Homo sapiens: one gene and its partner. The protein of the gene in region 1 interacts with the protein of each later gene in a pairwise test. Each region holds a gene or a part of one and is shown on either strand. Other genes may lie near its edges.

Region 1 (7,025 bases):
ACAAAATAAACAAAGAGGGAGCAAACACAGGAGAAAGTGCACGCCTTGGGGTCATCCCCTGGCCCTCCAGGGCTCGCCCTGTGTGCACGCAGATGGACCCGCCCTGGGTGCATTTTCACATTTCTGTGACGTCAGTCCTGCTTCCTAAAGAACATAACCTGCCCAACAGGCTCACGGCACATACCTGTGTGCCCCAGCCCCACGCCCTCAGGCCAGCAGCCCAGGGGCCTCCTTTCACTCCAGGCCACAGGGCACTCCCTGGACCCCCCGTCTGCCCATCCATGGGGCTCTGCCAGCCTCGAGGCAGGCTGTGGTCTGAAGAGGGGTTCTGCTCAGAGCCCTTGCTCTCCCCCAGCCAGCCCCCTGCCCTGAGCCAGCTGGTGAACCTGTACCTTGGGAGGTCACACTTTCTCTGGAAAGAGCCCGCCACCATGAGCTGGCTGGAGGAGAACGTCCACGAGGTTCTGCAAGCAGTGGACGCCGGGGACCCAGCCGTGGAAGCCTGTGAGAACCGGTGAGCTAGGGGTTGACACAAGCCCTGCCACGCCCCCTCCTCAGGGACCCTCATCCCAGACACGGGGGCCTCGCATTCGGGAGGCGAGAAGGGCTGTGAGCAGCTTGGCCTCCCTTGCTGTGGGGCCTGTGTGGAGCCTACAAGACAGCGCACAGCCCCTGGCGTGTCCCAGAGGCTTCCTGGGAGGCAGCTGTGGTGATCAGCGCAGGGTACCGAGCTGCTGTTCCCGGGTGCCTCGGGCTGGAGTGGTGCCTTCGGGTCTTGCAGTGTTTCCACATGAGCTGTGAGATGATGACGAGTCTCTCACAGCAGCATCTTGGGAGTAAAGAAATCTGGCAGAGACGAGAAAGAGTCTCCTGTCCTGTGTGTGAACACTTCGGAGGCTCATGCCCTAATATGCTGCAACTGACAGGCATCCCCTTGCTGTTCTTGTCTCGTTTGTCTGCGCCCTTGGCCCTGTGCTAGTTCTGTGCATCAGCACCGTGGCTCTGTGCAGTGGTGTGGCCAGGCTCAGGACCGCCTGGGAGTGGTGCCCATTTGCATCTCCACAGTGAAGTCTGTGTGCCGCGGACATGAGGTGTGCCCGGGGGTGCCCAAGAGGCGCTGGTGCCCCCAGCCGCTGGCAGTCATGGGCCCGTCCGCGTGTCTGCTGTCCCCACTGGACTGGACATTCTCATGGACAGGAGCATTTTGTTCCCTGTACTGCTCTCCAAGAGCGATTTCCAGCAGGGACCAGTGCCTGTGCCTGTAGCCGTAGCAGTGACGATGGTGACACACCCAGGTGTCCCTTCATGGAGATGAACTCAGTGACTTCCCACAAGAAGCCACTGGCTACGGCTCTCATCGTTCTTGTTCTTTGGATGAAGAGGCTGAGTCACTGGCCATGTGGCTGGGATTGGTCCCCAGAGGCTCCCCAGCCGCAGGCCAGGGACCAGCCATGGTGCCTCTGCTCGAGAGTAAAGTGTACAGTTTTTGCAGCCACCAGAGATGCAGCGAGATGCCTCGTGCTGGGTGGGGGTGGGGGCCGAGGCTCCATGGCGGTTACCATTTCATTTGCTGTGCTTTATCTGCTGTGCCTTGTTTCTCCCCGGCCCTAGGCGGAAGGTGCTCTACCAGCGTGCACCCAGGAATATCCACCGCCATGTGATCCTCTCTGAGATCAAGGAAGCCGTCGCTGCCCTGCCCCCGGTAAGGGAGAAAGGCTGAAATGGGAGCTCTGTGTAAGCCGGTCACATGCACGTCCCTTCTGCTCCGGGCGGTCCACATGCAGGCGTGCGTGGTGCGGGCTCCCTCAGCAGCCCAGCCCCGCCACGGCAGGGGCAGGGTCTAGTGCAGAGGGCTCCTCCTTTCCTGGCAGCCCGGGTTCGGATGCTTGTTGTTTTGAGAGAGAAATCCTTTGGGGCTCAGAGCACAAGCTGAGTCGTCACCGTGGTGAGCTGCTCCATCCGTGGTCTTGTGAGCGCGTGGTGCGGCTGCTGGGGGATTCTCTGTAGTCGTGGGGTGTAGTCCTGCTCTGACGCCTCCTGTGCTGGAGGTGCCGTTTCTGTCTCAAAACCTAAGGAGTTTGTACTGTTGTTAAGGGATAAGATAGAACGAGTGAGAAAACCAGCAAGTCAGAGGGTCGCAGGACCGTGGACCGTCCACTGGGGACAGCTTAGTGCCTCCTGGTTTAACTTCAGCTGCTCTGCGGGCCCTTATGACCGGCATGGCTGGCTTTGTCTGGGGCTGTGAGCTTCTGACTCTCCTCAGTAGAGTGGCAGCACGTGGCACTGTGCAACCCGAGGGCAGCTCAGGGTCCCTGTAGCCTGCATTTGCTGAAGTGGGAGCTTCTGACACGTGGTGAAGATGTTGGCAGGCTTGAGCGGCACGTGACCCCCTTCCTTCCCCACCACACACTCTGGTGTGCAGGGCAGACGCCGTGCAGGTTCATCTCGACTCCCGTGAGTGTCCTGGTGGCAGAAGGACTGTCCCACCCTCACCCAAAGCTCGTTGGTACAAAAAGCACAGCCGTTTCTGTCAGACTCTGTGGCTATCTCTCAGCAGATGCATCCAGTCCATGCTGGAGTCGACAGAAGGACTCTGCTGGGAGAGGTAGAGGCCCCCTGGCAGCATCTGTAGCATCTTCGTTTTATGTCCCTTTCTGAAGGACGTGACCACGCAGTCTGTGATGGGGTTTGATCCTCTGCCTCCTTCGGACACAATCTACTCCTACGTCAGGCCAGAGAGGTACCTCCCTCCTTCCAGTTCCCACCTCCCAGCTCCCACCTCCCTCCTCCCAGTTCCCAGCTCCCAGCTCCCACCTCCCAGCTCCAACCTTCCAGCTCCCAGCTCCCACCTAGCAGCTCCCGGCTCCTGGCTCCCACCTCCCTCCTCCCACCTCCCACCTCCCAGCTCCCACCTCCCTCCTCCCACCTCCCACCTCCCTCCTCCCAGTTCCTACCTCCCATCTCCCAGCTCCCAGCTGCCACCTCCCAGCTTCTGCCTCCCTCCTCCCAGTTCCCACCTCCCAGCTCCCACCTCCCAGCTCCCGCCTCCCTCATCCTAGTTCCCACCTCCCAGCTCCCAGCTCCCTCCTCCCACCTCCCACCTCCCTCCTTTCACCTCCCACCTGCCACCTCCCGCCTCCCACCTTCCAGCTCCCGCCTCCCACCTTCCAGCTCCCGCCTCCCTCCTCCCAGTTCCCACCTCCCACCTCCCAGCTCCCACCTCCCAACTCCCTCCTCCCACCTCCCACCTCACCTCCCTCCTCCCTCCTTCCAATTCCCACCTCCCAGCTCCCAGTTCCCACCTCCCAGCTCCCGCCTCCCACCTCCCAGCTCCTGCCTCCCTCCTCCCAGTTCCCAGCTCCCACCTCCCTCCTCCCGCCGCCTAGCTCCCACCTCCCAGCTCCCGCCTCCCACCTCCCAGCTACCGCCTCCCTCCTCCCAGTTCCCAGCTCCCACCTCCTACCTCCCAGCTCCCGCCTCCCACCTTACAGCCCCTGTCTCCTCCCTCCTCCCAGTTCCCAGCTCCCAGCTCCCGCCTCCCTCCTCTCACCTCCCCTGCCACCTCCTGCCTCCCTCCTCCCAGCTCCCACCTTCCAGCTCCCGCCTCCCTCCTCCAAGTTCCCACCTTCCAACCCCGCCTCCCTCCTCTCAGTTCCCACCTCCCAGCTCCCACCTCCCAGCTCCCTCTTCCCTCCTCCCAGTTCCCACCTCCCAGCTTCCTCCTCCCACCTTCTAGTTCCCACTTCTTTCCTCACAGTTCCCACCTCCCAGCTCCCATCTTCCAGCTCCCAGCTCCCACCTCCCTCCTTCCAGTTTCCACCTCCCAGCTCCCACCTCCCACCTTCCAGTTCCCACCTCCTTCCTCGCAGTTCCCACCTCCCAGTTCCCACCTGCCAGCTCCCACCTCTTTCCTCGCAGTTCCCACCTCCCACCTTCCAGCTCCCACCTCCCAGCTCCCTCCTCCCACCTTCCAGTTCCCACCTCTTTCCTCGCAGTTCCCACCTCCCAGCTCCCGCCTCCCTCCTCCCAGCTCCCACCTCCCAGCTCCCACCTCCCACCTCCCAGCTCCCACCTCCCAGCTCCCACCTCCCTCCTCCCAGCTCCCACCTCCCGCCTCCCAGCTCCCACCTCCCGGCTCCCGCCTCCCAGCTCCCAGCTCCTGCCTCCCACCTGCCAGCTCCCAGCTCCCGCCTCCCTCCTCCCAGTTTCCACCTCCCAGCTCCCACCTCGCAGCTCCCAGCTCCCAGCTCCCACCTCGCAGCTCCCAGCTCTCTCCTGCAGCTCTGAGGTCAGGGCTTTGGGGCTCACAGGGACTGGCTGCCTCTTTCAGACCCAGATGCTGAGAGATGGGGCTCAGGGCTAAGTGGGTCTTTCCCCTCACAGGAAGGGAGAGGAGGAGAGGAACAGTGTTATTTGGGGGTCACAGCTCTGCGTTTGCAGGCCACGTTCTTTCCCATCTCCACCGAATGTACAAGCGCTTGCGTGTCGGCCTCTGTGGCAGGTGCGAGTGACACAGTGGAAGCAGGTGTGCAGTGAAGTGGGGAAAACATATTAATTTTAGAATGTAGAAATAAACATAAAATCAAAACTGCACCAGCCTGGCCAACATGGCAAACCCCGTCTCAACTAAAAATACAAAACTTAGCCAGCTGGGTGCAGTGACTCACGCCTGTAATTCCAGCAGTTTGAGAGGCCAAGGTGGGCAAATCACAAGGTCAAGAGATTGAGACCAGCCTGGCCAACGTGCTGAAAACCCGTCTCTACTAAAATACAAAAAAATTAGCTGGGCGTGGTGCCGCACACCTGTAGTCCCAGCTACTTGGGAGGCTGAGGCAGGAAAATTGTTTGAACCCGGGAGGCACAGGTTGCAGTGAGTGGAGATCGTGCCACTGCACTCCATCCTGGCGACAGAGGAAGACTCCGTCTCAAAAAAAAAAAAAAAAAAAAAAATTGGGCGTGGTGGGTTGTGCCTGTAGTCCCAGCTACTCAGGAGGCTGAGGCAGGAGAATCCCTTGAACCCGGAAGGAGGGGGTTGCCGTGAGCTGAGATCACGCCACTGCACTCCAGCCTGGGTGACAGAGTGACTCCATCTCAAAAAAAAAAAAAAAAAAAATCCTCCAGTAAGGTGTTTGGAGGAAGGATGGTGGCTGTGCTGAGACGGAGAGGATGAATGTGCCCTCACCAGGCTCAGGGGAGAGGGTCCTTGTGTTCCCCAGCAGAGTCACGATGTGCCGAGGCCCTGTGCCAGGAGCAGAGCACACGGCACATTGAGAGAACAAAAGCCCCATGGCCAGACCGGGAGAGCAGGGCTGCGGCGCAAGAGGGCCAACTGCCAGGCGGCCGGTGTGTCTGGCTTTCAGAATCCGGGTCATTGAAAGGCTTTTTACCTTTTCCTTCTGGGCTGGAAAGTACTTGCCTTACCCAGGCCCCGTCACCCGCACAGCGGTCGTCGTGATTATCCCTGCCGGCAGGGTGTTGCAGCATTGAGGAATCGCGGTTCTTTGCTGCCTCCCTCCGCTGTGGAGCCCAGGCTTTCGCCCTCCCTAGAGCTCCTGAGGCCTGGCCGCTCAGCGTCCTGTAGAGCCGGGCCGGTAGCCCTTCGCACCGTGAGGGTCTCCGCTTAACGCAGGCCCTGGAAGCTTCTGCCTTTGCGTAAGGAGTGGGTGCTGAAGGAGACGTTGAAACTGCAGCTTTTCTGAAAAGCAAGGCACCTGTGCAGTGGCCGAGGATGGCTGTGGGAGCCTCGCTCCGGACGCCACGCCTGCCTCAGCTGAGTTGGTCTCCCTCATCCTGTTCCCGCTGTCCACAGCCCCACCCTAAGCTGATGAGGAAGCCTCACGGGCCACCCGGGGAATCCAGGGCCTGTGCTCAGCTGCTGCTGCTCTGCCCCCTGGCGGCCCCTCCGTGTCCCTGCGAGGGAGGCAGCTGGCAGGCAGCCCCGTGAGCCGGGTTGGGTCCCACGAGTCTCAGTTCAGTGTCGTTTCTGACTTTTCTTGACTTTCTTTCAGGCTAAGTCCTATCAGCCATGGAAACACCATTGCTCTCTTCTTCCGGTCACTGTTGCCAAACTATACCATGGAGGTAGGTTGAGCTCGTCCCAGCCCCTGCCTCCCCAGTGGGTGCGGGCATATCCATTCCAGTGCGAATGCCTGGAGCCTCCTTGAACCAGGACTGTGCCAGCCGGCACAGGGAGCAGGGAAGGACCAAGGCTGCATTGTGCCAGTGGGGTGCCCATTCTGCCGGGGAAACTGGGGCCTGCCCAGATGGTAGCAGATGCAGGGCCGTGAGTCAGCCGGCTTGATCCCACTCTGTGCCTGGCTTGGTCTAGACACGGCATTTGGTTTTGAGAGCTTCCTCCTCACAGGGACCTGGGGAGGGTTCAGGGTCCGGTGCTGGGGCAAGGGCCACCTCGGGCTCCACAGTGCCTCCTGCTTGGGCCCCGGGCCCCTAGTCCCAGCACAGACAGCCCCCTTCTCAGACATGTCCCCTTGCTGCAGGGGGAGAGGCCCGAGGAAGGAGTGGCTGGGGGTCTGAACCGCAACCAGGGCCTGAACAGGCTGATGCTGGCTGTGCGCGACATGATGGCCAACTTCCACCTCAACGACCTGGAGGCGCCGCACGAGGACGACGCTGAGGGGGAGGGGGAGTGGGACTGAGCGTCCGCAGAGGTGACCGAAAAGCCGTATGATGATGTTCCCGATTTCTCTGTTGGTCGGAGTCGGCCAGTTGCCTGAAGTAGGGAAGCTGAGTGTGTCGCTCCCTGGTCCACTGTTTCTCCTATAAATGTAAATGGGTCACGCTCTGCCGTCCGCACCTTCTCCTTTCGCAGGCACTGAGCGCCGTCCCATGCCCTCGGATTCGAATCACACTCAGTCCATTCTCCTCCCAGTGGCTTGTGGGTGAGGTGGGGCCCAGACCCCATGCTTCCTGTGCTCCCAGGATCTGGGCACGGGTGGAGAAGGGGCCCCACGGGGTCTTCAGTGCAGGTCCCTGCTGAATGCCAAGGCCCTGGGTGCACGTCCTCC
Region 2 (7,025 bases), on another chromosome or scaffold:
CTGTATCTACAAAAAATATAAAAATTAGCCAGGTGTGGTGGTGCATGCTGGTAGTCCCAGCTACTTGGGAGGCTGAGGTGGGAGAATCACCTGAGTCCAGGAGGTGGAGGTTGTAGTGAGCTAGGATCATGCCACTGCACTCCAGCCTGGGCATCAGAGCAAGATCCTATCTCGGGGGGGAAAAAAAAAATGTAAATCCAGAAAAACAAATGAATAAAGGAAATGCTCAGGTTTTTAAAACGTGAAAAGGTGCTTGACTTCTCATAATGCAAATAAAAATTAGTTTTCAGATTGGTGAATATATAATACATGAAATGGTGAGAGTATGGAGAGAAGACAGGATTCATCTACTTTTTAGGAGGAAGTATAAATTGAGCAAACATTTTTGTAGGCATTTGGCAGTATCTACCAAAATAAATGGTTATGTCTGTTGCTCTAGCAGATTTATTGACAGGAACTTATTCTGTATATGCACATATAAAGAGGATATACAAGAATATTCATTGTGGCATTGTAACAGTTTAAACAAAAGTTTAGACATTCACATACAAGGAATACTATGAAGCCAATTAAAATATTTTGTAGGGAATGAACCAAGGTATAAAACAGTGCCGTATAGAGTAGGATAAAGAAGAATGAGTAATAGTAACATGTATTTCTTAGAGGAAATACAAGACACTGATCAGCTGTTGTTGGGGAACTGGGAGACTGGAGGTTGGGAATGAGGCTTACTTGTTACTTTATTATTTAATTTATTTTAATTAAATTAAATTTAATTTTTTGAGACGGAGTTTCGCTCGTCACCCAGGCTGGAGTGTAGTGGCGCGATCTTGGCTTACTGCAACCTCCGCCTCCTGGGTTCAAGCGATTCTCCTGCCTCAGCCTCCCGAGTAGCTGAGATTACAGGCCCCCGCCACCTCACCTGGCTAATTTTTGTAATTTTATTGGAGACAGGGTTTCACCATGTTGGCCTGGCTGGTCTTGAACTTTTGACCTCAGGTGATCTGCCTGCCTCAGCTTCCTAAAGTGCTGGGATTACAGGCATGAGCCACCGAACCTGGCCTGCTTGTTACTTTAGACCCTTCTTATGTTTTGTTTGTTTTTTCAGGGAAATGTTTTTAAAGAAAAAGTGCCCCTATTGCCTATTTAGTGCATTGGTTTGAATAAAAAATTGTTGTTTTACTTCTGCCTTTGAATGTGGCATTTTTGGACAAGGTTTGTCATTCCAGAATATTCTTTCCCTAAATAGAGGCATTACTGTACTGTTGGAAATTAAGCCTTTGTAATTCATTTTTTGATGTAGGCTTAATTGTATGCCTGATCTCAGCAAAGACTAACCATATACTCATATAGTATTGATTTTGTTTCAACTTGTTTAGAAATATTTGTTGCTTATTTTATGATGTCGTTTTATTCCATTGATTTGCAAAGTGATGTGATTGTATTTGGTGTGAACACTTTTCTTCAGTTGTTTTCTTGAGTTGTGTTGGTAGGATCACTTTCACACCTCTCATTGAGGAGGATGCTTTGTTAATTTTGTTTAGTTAGAAGGGAAAGAAATAACCAGGCTTACAGAAACTAACAGCTGTGTTTATTTTGATCTGGACAGATTTGGAGGCCAATCACTGCCACCTTTTATTTCCCTGTGGGTCCAGGAACTGGATTTCTTTATTTGGTCAATTTATATTTCTTATATCAGTATTCTACGCGACTTGAAACAGGTATGTTACCCATAGTTGTTTTAAGCATTGTTTCTTTCTCATTTACTAATCCATGTGTTTACTTTGGAGGAATTTGGAGGGCAGTTAGCATTACAAAAAGAAACTGCATAAAGATAGTAAATGCTTAGTGACTGTGCCAGGACTGCACCAGGCACTTAGCTTACTCAATTTTTAATCCTCACAACATCCTGAGGTATAAGTAGCAGTGTTACCATTTTATAGATGCAAAAAGTAGCAGATCAGAGGTTGACATGGCTTGTCCATCTCCTTAGTGGCTGAGCTGTGTGCCTTTCATTTATTTTGAGGGTCTCACTCATTTCTTTTGCAGCAGTCCTTGTCCTTCAGTGCAGAATTGGGCTGGAGTATATATGTCTCCTAGATTGGGGTTGAAAAACATCAATTTATGTAATTAAAAGCCTAGATTTATTCTCTAATTGAAAAACTCAACTCTAAAATACAGTATATAGCCAAGATTTAATAATATATGGTAGTTTATCAGGTATGAGTACCAATGTAATATTTTATTTTATTTATTTATTTATTTTTTGAGACAATCTTGCTCCGTTGCCCAGGCTGGAGTGCAGTGGTGCCATCTCAGTTCACTGTAGCCTCTGCCTCTCGGGTTCAAGCAATTCTCATGCCTCAGCCTCCTGAGTAGCTGAGATTACAGACACCTGCCACCATACCCGGCTAATTTTTATATTTTTAGTAGAGATGGGGTTTTACCCTGTTGGCCAGGCTGGTCTCAAACTCCTGACCTCAAGTGATCTGTCTGCCTCAGCCTCCCAAAGTGCTGGGATTACAGGTGTGAGTCAACGTGCCCAGCCAACCTATGTAATATTATGGATAAGTTCGAAAAATCTTTTCGTAAAAGTGTCTTACTGAATTGTCATTTATTTCCTACAATACCTTATATGCTGTCTGAGTCACTTATACTAAAGAAACAATACATCAATACACTGTGTTACAATATGGATATAATTTTGTTAAATTTAAATGACTTTGAAAAGGCTGACTGACTTCAGAGACTTTATAAACTTGCTGGCTGTTACCTCAGGATAGAGAACTCTGAACTACCCTTAAGTGTATGTAAGTCAGTGCTCATATGGTTGAGAATTGCGAATCAGTCTCATCACTGCAGGGAAATAGTAGGATGGGTATTTGATGTCAAGTAACATTTTTCCTTAAATTGGCATTTGCTTTTAGGTTCTTTTTAAAAAGAAAGAAATTGTATTAATACAAAGTGTAAGGTCATAGACTATTATATTACTATTGGGAGGAACCTAGTTTATTTCCTGAGTTTTACCAAAAGATGAATAGGAGATTCAAGGAAGTAAAGTAACTTGGCAGAAATGAAACTGACAACTAGGCCTCTCACCACCATATTAGGGGTTTGATCTTTAAATCTACCAGAATATGTGATTTTTATTCTCCTTTGTTCCAGTTGGACCCATAATGATACTGAGTGCTTAGCAGTCTGCCTTTCTGGTATAACTTAATTGAGCATTAATTTGTTAGAGTAATTTTTTTTTTTTTTGAGACAGGGTCTTGCTCTGTCACCCAGACTGGAGTATAGTGGCACAGTCATGGCTCCCTGCAGCCTTGACTGCCGGGGTTCAAGTGATCTTCCCACCTTAGCCTCCCTAGTAGCTACAAGGATGGGTGTTAAACCGCCACACCTGGCTGACTTTTGTATTTTTTGTAGAGATGGGGTTTCACCATGTTGCCCAGCCTGGTCTTGAACTCCTGGGCTCAAGAGATTTGCCCACCTTGACCTCCCAAAGTGCTGGGATTACAGGCGTGAGCCACTGTGCCCAGCTGGAGTAATTATTTTATATTGATAGTAAACGTTATATCAATAGTAAAATAGATTAAGTGTGGATCATTTATGATCAGTTATTTAAAATTTTATTCTGGAAAATTTTCAAACATATGCAAAAGTGGAGGGAAAAGTCAATGAACCTTTTTTCTTTTTACTGAGACCAAATTCACATAACATAAAATTCATCATTTTAACCATTTTAAGGTGTACAATTCAGTGGTCTTTAGTATATTCACAATGTTATGCAGCCATCACCACAATCTAATTCCAGAACAGTTTCATCATTCCCTAAAAAAGCCAAAGCAGTCACTCTTTACCTCCCACTTTCCCTCCTCCCAGCCTTTGGCAACCACTAATCTACTTTCCGTGTATATGGATTTACCTATTCAGGACATTTCATATGTCCTTTGGTGACTGGCTTCTTTCACTTTGCACAATGTTTTTAAGGTTCATTCCTGTCATAGTGTGTGTCAGTACGAACCCCTCCTTAACCATCTAATGGTTATCACCTCTAATAGTTATCTCATAGCCAATCTTGTTTTATTTATATCTATTGCTGTCCTCCACCCCTGATTATTTGAAGCAAAATGCCAGGCATTTCATTTGTAAATATTTCAGAATTTAACTCTGAACTATAAGGACTTAAAACATAATTCTAATGCTATTATTAAACCTAAATTGCAATAATTCCATGGCCACTTTTTTTTTTTTTTTTTTTTGAGATACAGTTTCACTCTGTCACCCAGTCGGGGGAGTGCAGTAGCGTGATCTCAGCTCACTGCAACCTCTGCCTCCTGGGTTCAAGTGATTCTTGTGCCTCAGGCTCCCGAGTAGCTGGGATTACAGGTGCATGCCACCACATCTGGCTAATTTTTGTGTTTTTGGTAGAGATGGCATTTCGCCATGTTGGCCAGGCTGGTCTCAAACTCCTGACCTTAGGTAATCCACCTGCCTCAGCCTCCCAAAGTGCTGGGATTACAGGCGTGAGCCACTGCACCTGGCCAATGGCCACTTTTATTTTTAATTGCCTTCTTGTGCTTTGAATCCCTTTACCCAACCCTATTACCTGGTCAGGTAATACAACAAATTGTAATGTTATTCTCTCTGAATACCAATTTAGGACAAATTTGTGGGATTATTAGGTCACTGGTCTCTTTTATTTGCTTTGATTTTTATAAGTTGCCTCCTCATTCCCTACTCAACAACTACAGAGCATTTTGAAAGGCTTGAGCTGAGAGGCATTTTTTAACAGCTTTATTGAGATGTAATTCATGTACGGTACAACGTACCCATTTAAAGTATACACAATTCATTGGTTTTTAGTATATTGACAGAGTTGTACAGTCATTATCACACCCATTTTTATAATATTTCACCACCCCCAAAAGAAACCCTACCATTAGCAGCCATTCTCCCTTTTCATTCAATCCCTTCCTCCCCCACACCCTTAGGAGACCACTAAATTTTTTTTTTTTTTTTTTTTTTTTTTGAGACAGGGTCTCACTCTGTCGCCCAGGCTGGAGTGCAGTGGCACTGTCTTGGCTCTTTGCAACCTCTGCATCTCGAGTTCAAGCAATTCTCATGCCTCAGCCTCCTGAGTAGCTGGGACTACAGGCACGCACCACCACATCTGGCTAATTTTTGTATTTTTAGTAGACAGGTTTTCACCATGTTGGTCAGGCTGGTCTCAAACTCCTGACCTCAAGTGATTCGCCCACCTCAGCCTCCCAAAGTGCTGGTACTACAGGCGTGAGCCACTGTACCTGACCAAAACCACTGATCTTATTGACTCTTTAGATTTGCGTGTTCTGGGCATTTCTTAAAATCATACAGTATCTTGTTGCCTTTTGTGACTTATGTCTTTTACGTAGCATAATGTTTTCAAGATTCTTCCATATAGCCTGTATCAGTACTTCATTCCATTTTATTACCATTAAGATTCCATCGTATGGATATACCTCATTTTGTTTATTCAGTCATCAGTTGATAGACATTTGACTTGGTTTCATTTTTTGGCCATTGTGAATAATAGCTGCTATGAACGTGTAGAGAGGAACTTTTGAGATCATTCTATTTAACACTCTTATTTCATAGATAAGAAAACAGTGATCTAGAGTGGTGGTGACGTGTCCCAAAAGTTGCAGAGCTCTTTGAGTTAACGCAGTTAGGACTGGAACCCAGGTTCACTGATCCCCAGTTTTCTGTCAACCACACAGCTTTAAGTTAACATCTTGACAAAATGTTTGCCACCTGCACATTTTCCTGCCTGGCTAAATTGTTAGTTATATAGCAGAGTTGGCTTATTTGAGGTTTCTGATTTGAACTGGAAGACTGTAATTTGAAACCAGTTAATTTGTAAATTCTCAGTTGCAAGCATGTCAGATAATATAGTGCTGTAATTTATATGATTACAATATTTTAAGTACTCAGTCTAAAGACTCCTTAGGAATCAGACAGCCAAAGCCACATCAAAAGAAGCACAGCTATTATTAAAATCGGGAAATTGTGTTAGAATTTCAGCTGTGATTCATCATTGTGATCCTCTAGCATTAGGCCTGCTTAACACTGTGGCTGAAGTGTGCTTTGAGGTATCAAGGGAGAAATAAAGGAGAGTAGAAGACACTTTTGCTGGAAACCTATTTTCTTTTAATTATATCTTTTTGCCTTACTGACACTTGTTGGGTTTCTTTTTTTAAATTGACTAGCTGTATCATGTAACTGTGAGGGGGTGTGGAACGGGGAGGGAAAGTAACTTTCAAGCTAGAGTGATCTTACAGTCATTTCTGTTTCTTTTTTTTTTTTTCTTCTGTTAAAGTCTTCTAACTGAAGGCATTAGGAATTATGCTTACACGGGAGGCCGTTGTTGATTATTCTGCCCAATAAGGCATATGGCGCAGTGACAGGAGCACTGTGCTAGTAATTTGATGTCACTCTGGTTCTAACAAGCTCTGTGACTTTGGTCATGTGACTTTAACTCTGCATCTGTAAGAAGCAGGTCGTAGGTCTTTCCATTCTCCCTTCCAGATGCAGTATGAGGACTGAGTCAGAGGCTATGGAAAGGTTTGGCTGACGCTTTATTCCCTCCTTCCCCCACATTGTTTTCCCTTGGTAGAATGTACGTCTCTGGAAGACAGAGACTTTCTTTTTCAGTATCTAAGGCCAGTGTGGTACAGGTGGTTGTGTGTGTGTATGTGTGTTTCTAATAATAATGGTAAGTACCTCCCAGCATAGCCATGCTGGAGGAGACACAATGGAGACAAAACAGGCATGGTTCCTCCTCTGACAGAACTTAACGGTCTAGTGGAGGAGGACAGGGATCAAGCATGTAATCCAGAATGCGGCCATCAGGTCATGGCGAGAGCCAAGAAGGAAAGGCTGACAGGCTGGGAGGGAGCTTGGGGGGCCTCACTGGTCTTTGGGATACAGGGCTCAGAAGCTGTGGAATTGACTGTACTTTCTCTGGGTCTGTTTTAGCCTGTGGT

Evidence for each region.
Region 2: the proteins of TCF25 (region 1) and DERL1 interact in binary tests that used the Homo sapiens proteins (3 or more experiments, as listed by UniProt).

The regions. Positions count from the first base shown.
Region 1 is NC_000016.10:89,904,583-89,911,607, forward strand, and holds the end of TCF25 (ribosome quality control complex subunit TCF25), read left to right. Parts: intron 1-355; coding exon 356-514; intron 515-1,611; coding exon 1,612-1,702; intron 1,703-2,660; coding exon 2,661-2,740; intron 2,741-6,008; coding exon 6,009-6,081; intron 6,082-6,497; coding exon 6,498-6,656; 3' UTR 6,657-6,797; downstream 6,798-7,025. UniProt on the Homo sapiens protein: Component of the ribosome quality control complex (RQC), a ribosome-associated complex that mediates ubiquitination and extraction of incompletely synthesized nascent chains for proteasomal degradation.
Region 2 is NC_000008.11:123,025,301-123,032,325, reverse strand, and holds part of DERL1 (derlin-1), read left to right. Parts: intron 1-1,569; exon of another isoform or gene 1,570-1,609; coding exon 1,610-1,721; exon of another isoform or gene 1,722-2,096; intron 2,097-6,553; exon of another isoform or gene 6,554-6,603; intron 6,604-7,025. UniProt on the Homo sapiens protein: Functional component of endoplasmic reticulum-associated degradation (ERAD) for misfolded lumenal proteins. Forms homotetramers which encircle a large channel traversing the endoplasmic reticulum (ER) membrane.